3 linked regions of the Homo sapiens genome follow. The protein of the gene in region 3 purifies or fractionates together with the protein of the main gene of each other region. This does not show direct contact. Each region holds a gene or a part of one and is shown on either strand. Other genes may lie near its edges.

The links.
Region 1: the proteins of ADGRG5 (region 3) and ATP13A3 purify together in Homo sapiens (co-immunoprecipitation; 3 studies listed by BioGRID and IntAct, with this or other methods). This does not show direct contact.
Region 2: the proteins of ADGRG5 (region 3) and ANO6 purify together in Homo sapiens (co-immunoprecipitation; 3 studies listed by BioGRID and IntAct, with this or other methods). This does not show direct contact.

The regions. Positions count from the first base shown.
Region 1 is NC_000003.12:194,404,521-194,407,085, forward strand, and holds part of ATP13A3 (polyamine-transporting ATPase 13A3), read right to left. Parts: intron 1,597-2,565; coding exon 1,399-1,596; 3' UTR 1-1,398. UniProt on the Homo sapiens protein: ATP-driven pump involved in endocytosis-dependent polyamine transport. Uses ATP as an energy source to transfer polyamine precursor putrescine from the endosomal compartment to the cytosol.
Region 2 is NC_000012.12:45,214,493-45,218,244, forward strand, and holds the start of ANO6 (anoctamin-6), read left to right. Parts: upstream 1-1,602; 5' UTR 1,603-1,829; coding exon 1,830-1,899; intron 1,900-3,752. UniProt on the Homo sapiens protein: Small-conductance calcium-activated nonselective cation (SCAN) channel which acts as a regulator of phospholipid scrambling in platelets and osteoblasts.
Region 3 is NC_000016.10:57,540,991-57,544,742, reverse strand, and holds the start of ADGRG5 (adhesion G-protein coupled receptor G5 isoform 1 precursor), read right to left. Parts: upstream 2,101-3,752; 5' UTR 2,097-2,100; coding exon of another isoform or gene 2,042-2,096; exon of another isoform or gene 1,686-2,041; coding exon of another isoform or gene 1,570-1,685; intron 1-1,569. UniProt on the Homo sapiens protein: Orphan adhesion G-protein coupled receptor (aGPCR). Ligand binding causes a conformation change that triggers signaling via guanine nucleotide-binding proteins (G proteins) and modulates the activity of downstream effectors, such as adenylate cyclase.

The sequences.
Region 1 (2,565 bases), on a different chromosome or scaffold from region 3:
CTGTTTTCATAGTTTAGCGTCCATTTTATAGCACGATCAGTTTTCTGTGTTGTGGTAACTGTGGGCGTTGCCAGACTGCTGGATCCACCTATAAAAGGTGTTTTTTAAAAGTTACCTTAATTTTGGCAAGAATTTAAATGTTAATCAGGCCAAACAGAAAGGTGAAAAATGTTTCTCCACATCTCTTTTGGCTCAATGAATGTCAATTTTTTAACTTTATTTCCTCAATTTTTTTTCTCCCAGAAATTTCCGCATCAAATATGCTCATTTGTAACGATCCAATTCAAAATAGACATGTTCTGACCTCTGGCGCCACCTAATGGCATAAAACAAACTCATCAAATTCATATTGCTTTGAAAAAACGGCAGCCATTCAAATCCAGTATTTTTTAAGCCTCATTATTGATAAGACAGAGACATACATCAAACCTCAAAAAATTTTATGAGGTAAAATTCTAACTTAAAAAAAACTATTATCCTATGTCTTTAGGTAATTGAAAACATAGAAGAAAATTTTAAAAAACCATTTAAAATAACACAAAGCCTGACAGAAACAAATTTGAAGAAACGTTAAAAGATGAATCTACATCTACTGCCGAAAGAAATGAATCTTATTTCCTAGTGAAAAAGGTTCTACAACATTTAACAGAAGCAAATTAGACTGCCAACACCACACATAGCACAGGAGCCATTTAAGAGCTTTGAGAGGCGTCTCAAGAAGGCAGTGAAGCACCTTGCTGATTAGAAAAATAAAACCCAGGCAGTTTGTACAGAAAATATAAAACCAGAAATGGAGATTACCTGAGTTGTTCTATAAGCAACACCATAAACACTCATTCCTAACTCTAGACCATCATAGGGAATTGGCATATGTTTATACAGAATTCTTTGGAAGAAACATTGGAATCAAATGAAAACAGGCTTTCAGTATATTTTCACTGGAGGCTAATTAACACTCATCTTCTTTTTATCAATCACAAACTTACAGCCTGTATATAAACACAGACTTTTCTAACAAGAGGGTTGTGAGCATAAATGTGAAGAGGTAAACTAGTCTCAAAAACTAATGTTGAAAAACCTACCAAACACCAAACTTCTCCTGTACCCAATATAAAGAATATCACTGAAAGTAACAATCAAGAAAATTCTGGAAATGTATGTAATATTTGGGTTGCTGAATGAAGATATAGGACTTTATGGATTGATTGTTAATTTAACTGTTAGGACGATATATTTTTCTGTTTTTATTTTAAGGAAGAGCAAAGCTGTCAAATAAGCTACTATATCAGAAGGGACATAAACTGAACTAGTGCCATTCTGACACACAGGATCAGAAACTCCTAAAATCACATATTCCTGAATACTGCTATCAGCAATACCACTGAGACTGATTCACTGCTATGTTATGGTGATGATTTGACATGATCCATTCTCCTTAACTAAAGCTTTAGCTTCTGTGGTTGTCTGAGGTTTTGGTGGCCATTCTGGATCAACCAAGAGCTCCTGCGCCAGATACATGTACTTTGCCTTTGGTGTCTTCTTTCTACAGCCCAGGGCCCAGGGTAAGCAGCATTTTCCCCACCGATCCACTGACTCCTAAGAAAATAAGAAAAAAACAAAACAAAACACCCCAGTTGATTAAAGGCTTGTCGTTTTAAACAGGTTTGTTAAAGCACACATTAGCAGAGAAAAATAAGAGGAAATGACTTCTGAGCACAACGAATGGGGGAAAAAAAAATCCATGTTAAAAAAAGGCAGCTTTGGCCGGGCGTGGTGGCTCATGTCCGAAATCCCAGCATCTTGGGAGGTCGAGGTGGGAGGACTGCTTGAGCCCAGGAGTTCGAGACCAGCCTGGGCAACACAACGAAATGTGTGTTCTTTTGTTTTATTTTGTAAGGGCAGCTTTCAATTATTTAGGAACTGATTATTCTTTAGATTATATTTTTTTTGGGGGGATAATCAATATGATTGACTTCATTTAGTTTTATATACCTATACTCTTGTGTACTAATACCTTTTAAATAACTTGCAGATATGGATTCTTTACCACAGAATATCTAATGTATTAAGAACTTTAAGCCATTCAGAAAGAGAAAACATTTTTAATATTTAATTTGAAAATCTTCACATTCTGTCCCAAACTATCTTTTGGTACTATTGCTCCTGGCAACTTAGCCGCATGATCATTTTTGGAAGAAAGCTGTGTACAAGTATCCTTGTTACTGTTAATATCATCTCTCAAAACATGAAGTAAATATCGTTTGGTCAAAATTAGGGCTTCAATCATGTTTAATGTCAATTACGTCTTTTAAAACCTCATCCTTACTAATATAAAAAACAATACTGTTTTATAATGATGGTTTCCGTCGGTGCTCCACGACTGGAAAGGGGTATAAAACAAGTACTATTGCTTAGTATTATTTCATTGCAAAAAGCTCTGCTGTCACTGAAATCCTTCTGATCAATCCTGATGTTTTTAGTGAATTTGGCCTTAGATAAATGATCCTTGGAGAACAAGAAAGCAGAGTCCCTGGTTAATGCATAGAAATGTAAACTCAATAGAGG
Region 2 (3,752 bases), on a different chromosome or scaffold from region 3:
TAGTGAGTTTCACAAGCTCAGGGGAGAGTGTTCAGTGAAAGGAAACAATCTCTTCTCATCTTTCTTCTCCCATCATTTTTTTCTCCTATCTTCAGAGTACTGTATTGTTGTCTCTTTATACTAAAAACAATTCTGTTTATTCAAAAAAAGTACCTCAAGAAGCAAGTATAGTGTTTCCCAGGTATTTTCTTAAAAGTAATTTCATCATGTCTTTTCATGTATATATTCATGTCTATTTTCCCACTTAAGATTGGTCCCAATGTTTTCTTTCTTTCAGAGAGAACATTAAAAATGTTAGGAAACTGAGGTGCAAGGATTGCTGGAGGCCAGGAGTTCGAAACCAGCCTGGGCAACATAGTGAGACACCCATCTCTACAAAAAAATTTAAGAATAAGCCCCACATGGTGGTGTGCTCCGCTTGTAGTTCTAGTTACTGAACTCCCACCTCGGCAACAGAGCGAGACCGTCTTAAAAAAAGTATGTGGAAGAAAAAACATGCACAGTAGATTTAGTGTTATTGTGATAACCCTAGCACTTCAGTGGAAAAAATATAAACAATTTCAATGAGTAGACAATAACACATATAACCAAGATTTCAAATATACCTTCTAGCCCTTTTGAGAAGTCAAAATTGAACAACCTGAATGTACCAGCTTTTTTGAAAAAAGTTTTGTAGACACGCGATCCCCAAAACCTGCCGTTCAAACAACTCCAAGGGTCTTTAAAGTACTAAATCCCTTTGTATTTGTCCTATCGGTCCCTTTGGTTTCCAGGAAAGCATTAAAAATAAAAATAAAAACTCTCTGCCTTAATTTTATTTCACGACTTTCTTTTCTCTTATTATAGCTTTCCACATTGCTTTAGAAGAGTTTACATCTAACTCTAGTGGTCTTCGGCTTCTTCTCCCTCTTTGACACAGAGGACTAGTTTCAATTGTACAAATAGGCTGGACGCTTCAGCGATTATCTTCCGACCACTCCCTGTGTGCTCGCGCGGGCGGAGTAGGGGGCGCTTCTCCACTCTCCGCGACCTCAATGTATGCGGAAATCCTCCTGCCTTTGTGCACACGTTTATTTAGAAAATTCTCTCCACCCCCACTCCCGTCCGTCCCGCCCCTTCTTCTTTTGCTTATTCTCTGAGTTTTGCCTCTCCTCCCACCCCGACTCCACCGTAATCTTAACCTACCCGTACAGATTCCACTTTCCCACTTCGGAGCTAGAGTAATTTAAGATCCCCCCATTATTAGCTCCACGTCGCCTTTAAAAGCCATTCAAACGAGTTCGCCTTCCAGGGTTCTGCAGTTGTGCTGCAGCAGCATTTCCCTCCTCTCCAGTATCAGACGTTAAAACAAAGCAAGCCACAGTGTGTGTCCACAGACGACCTTGGAACGAAAAGCTGCCCTGTTTGGGATCAATGCTCAGGGAACCCAGTCCACTCCCGCACTCACGTGTTCCCGCCTTGCCCTCCAGCTAGTTCCCCCGCGCGCAGGATCGCACTACTCCCTCTGCAGTCTCGCCTGCCGACTTCCTTCTGCGCGCCTCGTAAAACCGGGGAAGTTCAATCATTCCGCAGCGAGCCGCGGCGGCCGCACTGGGCATGCTCAGTCTCCGGGCTCCGCTCGGCAGGCGAGAGGCGTCCTCCGGCTCTGGGCTCCGGTCGGTGGGTGCCTCGGCTCGGCTTTCCCCGGCGCTGGCTGGGCTCAGCGGCCCCTGAGCCCAAGCGACACACGCCCCGCGGTCCCCGATCCGGCCCCTGGGAGAGCCGCGCCGTTCTGGAACCCGGGAGCCCCCAACTTCGCGCCAAGTTCGGAGCCGCCTTCTGAGGGAGACATGAAAAAGATGAGCAGGAATGTTTTGCTACAAATGGAGGAGGAGGAGGACGACGACGATGGGGATATCGGTGAGCGAGGGGTCCCCGCGTCCCCACCCGAGAGCCCGAGCCGACGCGGGAAGAAGTTCGGGGACTGCGCGGGGGCGCTGTGCTCTCCGCGGGGGAGGTTGGCCGAGACGCTCGGCCGCTCCGGGCAGGGGAGGAAGCCCGCTGTCCCCGGCTGCTTGCAGACTGAGGCCCCGGTGCGGCCCCTGCGGGGCTGAGGCGCGGGGCGCGTGGTGGCCCCGAGGACAGGCTCCTGACGGGCGGGGGATGCTGCCCCTGAAAAGCCTGGCAGCTGCGGGGACGCCTCTGCGTGCGGAAGTCTCCACTCAGAAGCAACTTTGGGGTCACTTCCCCGACTCGCAGAGTGCTAGGGTTGCCCAGGAGCCTCGGCACTGGGGCGAGCCCCCTGGGCGGGGTCCGGGGAGCAGGCCCGCATTTGGAGGACAGGGTGTGACCCATCTGAATCCTCGTTAAAGTAAAAGCCGACCGACGGCTCTGGGAGGTTTGAGGCCTGGCGGGGCGGCCCCGGGAAGTGATTTGTGGCCGCTAGGCGCGCGCTGGAAACCCTTTCCCATCTGCGGAGCCCACCGGAGCTGTGATCGGAGGAGGAATTCCCCCAGGCAGGGAGGACCGCAGGGCCTTTTTCACTCGTCCTGAGGGGCCCTGGGGCTTGGGGAGCAAACCTGGGGTGACCCATTTCTAGTTAGAGTTAAAAATGCATGGAAGTGACAAGACGAACGGAGGGAGAGCTGTTTTAAGAGCAAAAAAAGAAAAAAAGGGCAAACAAAAGGGATGAGAGGAGGTGAGGAAGGGGAAAGGAATGAGAGGACTAGAGAGAAAATCAGGTCCCTAAAGAGAACACTGTCGGGGGATGATGATATAATGTGTCCCTCCAGAAGACTCTAATTAAATTACCAAGCCAGTCTGTTGTGGCGACTCGGCTTAGTCTCCTGGATGCCAAATCAATTTTAAAGCAGAACATCCTGCTGATGTTCTAAAGCCCTGTTGTTATCTAATAACTTTAAAAGTAACTTAATTTTAGGAGTTGGGTGTGGTTTTTATTTCTGTTACATTTTGGGCACGGAATATTTCGATCAAAAAAATTTGGTAACTTCTTGGTTGTCCAGGGACAAATCGAATAGAGGAGATTACACTCCATGATTTAGTTTCACATTTCATTCATTCATTTAAGAACAATTTACTAGTTATTCATCTTTAAGGAGAGAGCAAATAGTAGTAGTTTTTATAGGAGAGAAAACTGAAGCGCACAGGTTGGTCTGCCCAGCTTCTCACACTTTCAAACCCAGGTTTTCTGACTTGTAAAACCAGTGAAGATTAATGCTCTTACCACTGGGTCACTCTGGCTGTTACTACTGTTTAGCAAGATTAAGTAGTACCTGATGATTACATAAAAATATAGGAGTGAAATTTAAAAAGTTACAATAAAATTGACACAGTCTGTTTCCCAGGAAAGTATTATTGTCTTTTATGGTGAGCTGCACTGTTTATAATGAGTATTGTAAGTAAATAAGGGCAGAAGCTCAAATGGAAACTGAAGTAAGCAAGAGGCTCTGAGCTTTGTTTTACTGTGCCAGCAGTAGATCTCAGTTTAGAAAGTAATTTGGTCTAGTCTGTGTTTACCTATTGAGGCATCGTATAAATTCATCTTAAGCGTGTGGCAGTAAGCTCTTTTTATTTTTAATGACATGTCATTCATGCTAGTTTTGTCCAGTCAAACAGTGTAGATAGACTTAAGAAAAAGTTAAATATCTCTACTCCTCCCCACCCTCTAGAAACTACTAATACTAATACTTTAGTGTTAATATTAGTAGGGCATTTCCCACTATTCCTGTGGGGCCCTGGGGTCTCTACTGTAG
Region 3 (3,752 bases):
ACTGAAGGAACTCATTCAGGAGAGATAACTCAGGCCCAGTAGTGGAGGACCTGACAGCACAGAAAGGATCTTGGGCCAATTTGTCCACCCCTTCACTATACTGTTGGTGAAACTGAGGCCCAGAGAGATAGATGGATTTGACCTGCAAGGTGTAAGACCAGGCTCTTACCCCCACTGGTTCCAGGCAGGCACTGAGGGAAGAAAAGCCTGACCCTACCACACAACTGAAGAAATTGAGGCCAAAGCAGAAGTGATACCTCCCCCAGGCACTCCAGATAGAAGCTGTGGTTTCCACCCCCTTTCCCAGGAGCAAACCACAGTCTTCACTTCTGCTTGCAACCTCCAAATTCCCCTCCACATCCCTTCAGAGAGGTCACCATGCACCATCCCCCCACACGCTGAGCCATTTCATTCTCCACCCTGCAATTCATTATTTGTGGCCTTCTAGGAAACAGCAATCCCTTATCTGACTTCCAGGATGGTTCCAGTTGATGGTGGGGAAACCGAATACTGCGTAAGAGGAGTCTGCTTGAGGTTCTACAGCAGGCCAGTGGGCAAGCTGGGACTCAAACCCAGGCCTCCACGGTCCAGGGCACTACCCCCTGCACACTGCAGCCTCCCAAAGATGGTTGGGCAGCTGAGTTGCTTTGCAGACAAGTAAGACTCTATTTAGGCCAATAGAGAAATGAGGAGCTGTGGAGCACAGGACAGAGCCTTTGGAAGATGAGAATTTGATAACCAGTTGCAGTATTCAGTGCCTAGGCTGTGTGACACTGGGCAGGCACCTGACCTCTCTGTGTCTCAGGTTTTCTCATCTGTAAAATGAGGCCAAGGAAATCTATTTCCCAGAAAGAGAAATTCAAACAACAATTTCCCTGATCCTCTCCTGGGAATCAGGCCCTGAGAAAGGTCCAGGGCTCTGATCAAAGTCCTTGGCCAGGAATACATCTGAGCACAAGGCTTGGGAACCCCTGCCTTCCTCCCTACAGCTGACCATGCACCCCCGAAGCCCACCTCTCCCCAGCAGCACGAAGGCCTACTGAGCCAGCCATTCTCCGCACACAGCCCCACCTGCCCCTGCCAACCACAGTCTGGAGCCCCTGCCCCTGGCCTGGGTGAGGAATCAATCAACCTGTGGTCTCTGCAAAAAAGCACTAACAGGCCAGGAACGGTGGCTCACGCCTGTAATCCCAGCACTTTGGGAGGCCAAGGCAGGTGGATCACCTGAGATCAGGAGTCCGAGACCAGCCTGACCAAAGTGGCGAAATCCCGCCTCTACTAAAATTACGAAAATTAGCCAGGCATGCTGGCTGGTGCCTGTAATCCCAGCTACTCAGGAGGCTAAGGCAGGAGAATCGCTTGAACCTGGGAGGTGGAGGTTGCAGTGAGCCGAGATCGCACCACTGCACTCCAGCCTGGGCAACAAAGCAAGACTCCGTCTCAAAAAAAAAAAAAAAAAAAAAAGCCCTAAGAAATGCTATAGTAACCCTATTTCCCAGGTTGGGAAAGAGAGGCCACCCTGGAGCCCAACAGGAAGTCTGTGACCAAGCCAGCAGCAGGTCCATTTACCTGAGACATGCTGTCCCCAGGATCCAATCCAGGTCACTCTGAAAGGAGCTGCACCTGCTCCAGATTGCCAAGCACAAACTGTGTGCCAGGTCCTCTACTGAGCCCCTGACAGCCATCCAAGGTGCAGGTTCCCAGACTCACCCCATTTTACAGATGAGAAACTGAGGTCCAGAAAAGAAACCTCTCTTCACTTGTCCCAGACCTCGCGGGGAAGCTAAGATTCGAGACCCATGCCTAACCACTTCTTAATTTAAATTGCCCCTCCTTCCAAAAGCACAGATCTCTACATTGCCCCAGATGTGGAGCTGCCAACCAGAAAGGGAAGGAGGGTGGGTCCCCAGCTTGCTCACCAGGATATCACCAGGTCTGTGCCCACCTGGACATGGGTATGGCCAGTGCCCACTGAGGGGCCTGTGGATAAGGACAGAGAACTGGGCAGAGGAGAGTGGGGAGAGGCCCGGAGGAGGCTGACCTGAGAAGCTGCCGCTGCCGTCTCAGCTGCTGTCTCGGCTGCTGTCTTGTAGCTTCTGCAGGAAGAAGGGGAAGTCGGGAGGCGTCTGTGGGTGGCCTCTCCCTTTGCCCCACACCTGCACCCCCACTGCACTTCTCTCTGCTCCCTTCACCCCAGGCCCAGGCACCACACTCTCACTTCACTTCTTCTTTCACCAGCAGCAGCCTCTTTGCTTCCTTCGAGCTGTCGGTCATGCCCTGGTCACCCTTTGAGGGTATCACCCCGTAGAGTCTGCAGCTACTTCCTGGGGTGGCTGCTCCTCTGTGGAGGTGCTCAAGGACATGGCAACGTGGCCTTATGCAGTGCGCAAGACCCACCTGAGCTCTGCACCTTTGGGCAAGACATGTTGCCCCTCTGGGCCTCAGTTTTCCCATCTATAGAAAAGGGAAAATGATCCCTGCCTGACCTGACAATTGATGGCATATTGATGATGGCAAAGACCTCAGGCAGCAGCTTGGTCAGACTGCCTGGGTTCAAGTACCAAGCCCACCACTTACTGGGTGGGTGACTTGGGGCAAGCCACTCATGCTCTCTGAACCTGTTTCCCCTCTGTAAAATGGAGATAATGACAGTACCATCTTGCAGGGCAGTGTGGGGCTTACAAAAGGTAAGGCTGGCAAAGTCACTGGAAGTGCTCTATGAAGCCGTCATATTTCACAGATGAGGGACCTGAAGCCCAGAGAGGACCTGGGCCTGGCCCAGAGTTGCCAAGTGGCAGAGCATGGTGGAGAGGGGCCTCCCTGGCCACAGAGCCCAGAAAACATGAGGCTGGAAAGCTGGCCAGCTTCTCCTTGAGCCAGGCAGCTGGATAGGCCTGTCCTGCATCAGCCATACCCTCTGAAGAGCTCTAAGGGAAAGCAAGGAGGTGTGTGTGGGGGATAGAGAGAGAGTGTTGGTAATGGGGAGACGGTGCTCTCTCTTGCCTGGGCCCCATCCAGACTCCTGGGAAAACTGACTCAGGAATGTGCTCTTCCAGCCCTGGGGGAAAGATGGAGAGGCAGCAAAAGGGAGAAACCAGACAGGTCCTAACATGGTCTCCCCGCTCTCTGCCTCACTGGGGCCCTTCCCGCATCAGCCCAAATACAGCTTGCAGGTAGTACAAGTGGCCTCTGCTGAAGCAGGAGGGAGCTGCTCCTTGGAGGGCAGCCAGGTCCCCACCCCAGCTGCACGGTGAAGGTTTTGCAGGGACACCGGTGCACCTGTGTCCTGACTCCTGGGCTACACTCCCTCTGGGTGACTTGGGCAAGCCTTGGCCCTTCTTTGCGCTTCGGTTTTCTTTGATCAGGATCCAGACCTTGACCTCCAGGCTCTTCCTTTCCGAGGTCACCCAGCTACCTCTAGGATTGCCATGCCAACCTCCTCCTTCCTCATGCTGAATGTGAGCCCAACTGGCTATTCTTAGGGCTCAGGAGGAGGCCCTGCCTACCCCATAGCCCCTCTAGCCTGGGTCTGTACCAGCCTCACTGTGCCTTGCTTCAGTTGGGGGCTAAGTTAGTGCCCGTTACTTAGCCCTGCACTCCTGATCCTGAAGCTCACTACCAAGATACTCTCCTGCTCAAAAGCCAGTGGTGAGGCTGGGTGCGGTGACTCAGGCCTGTTATCCCAGCACTTTGGGAGGTGGAGGCAGGCAGATTACTTAAGGCTAGGAGTTTGAGACCAGCCTGGGCAACAT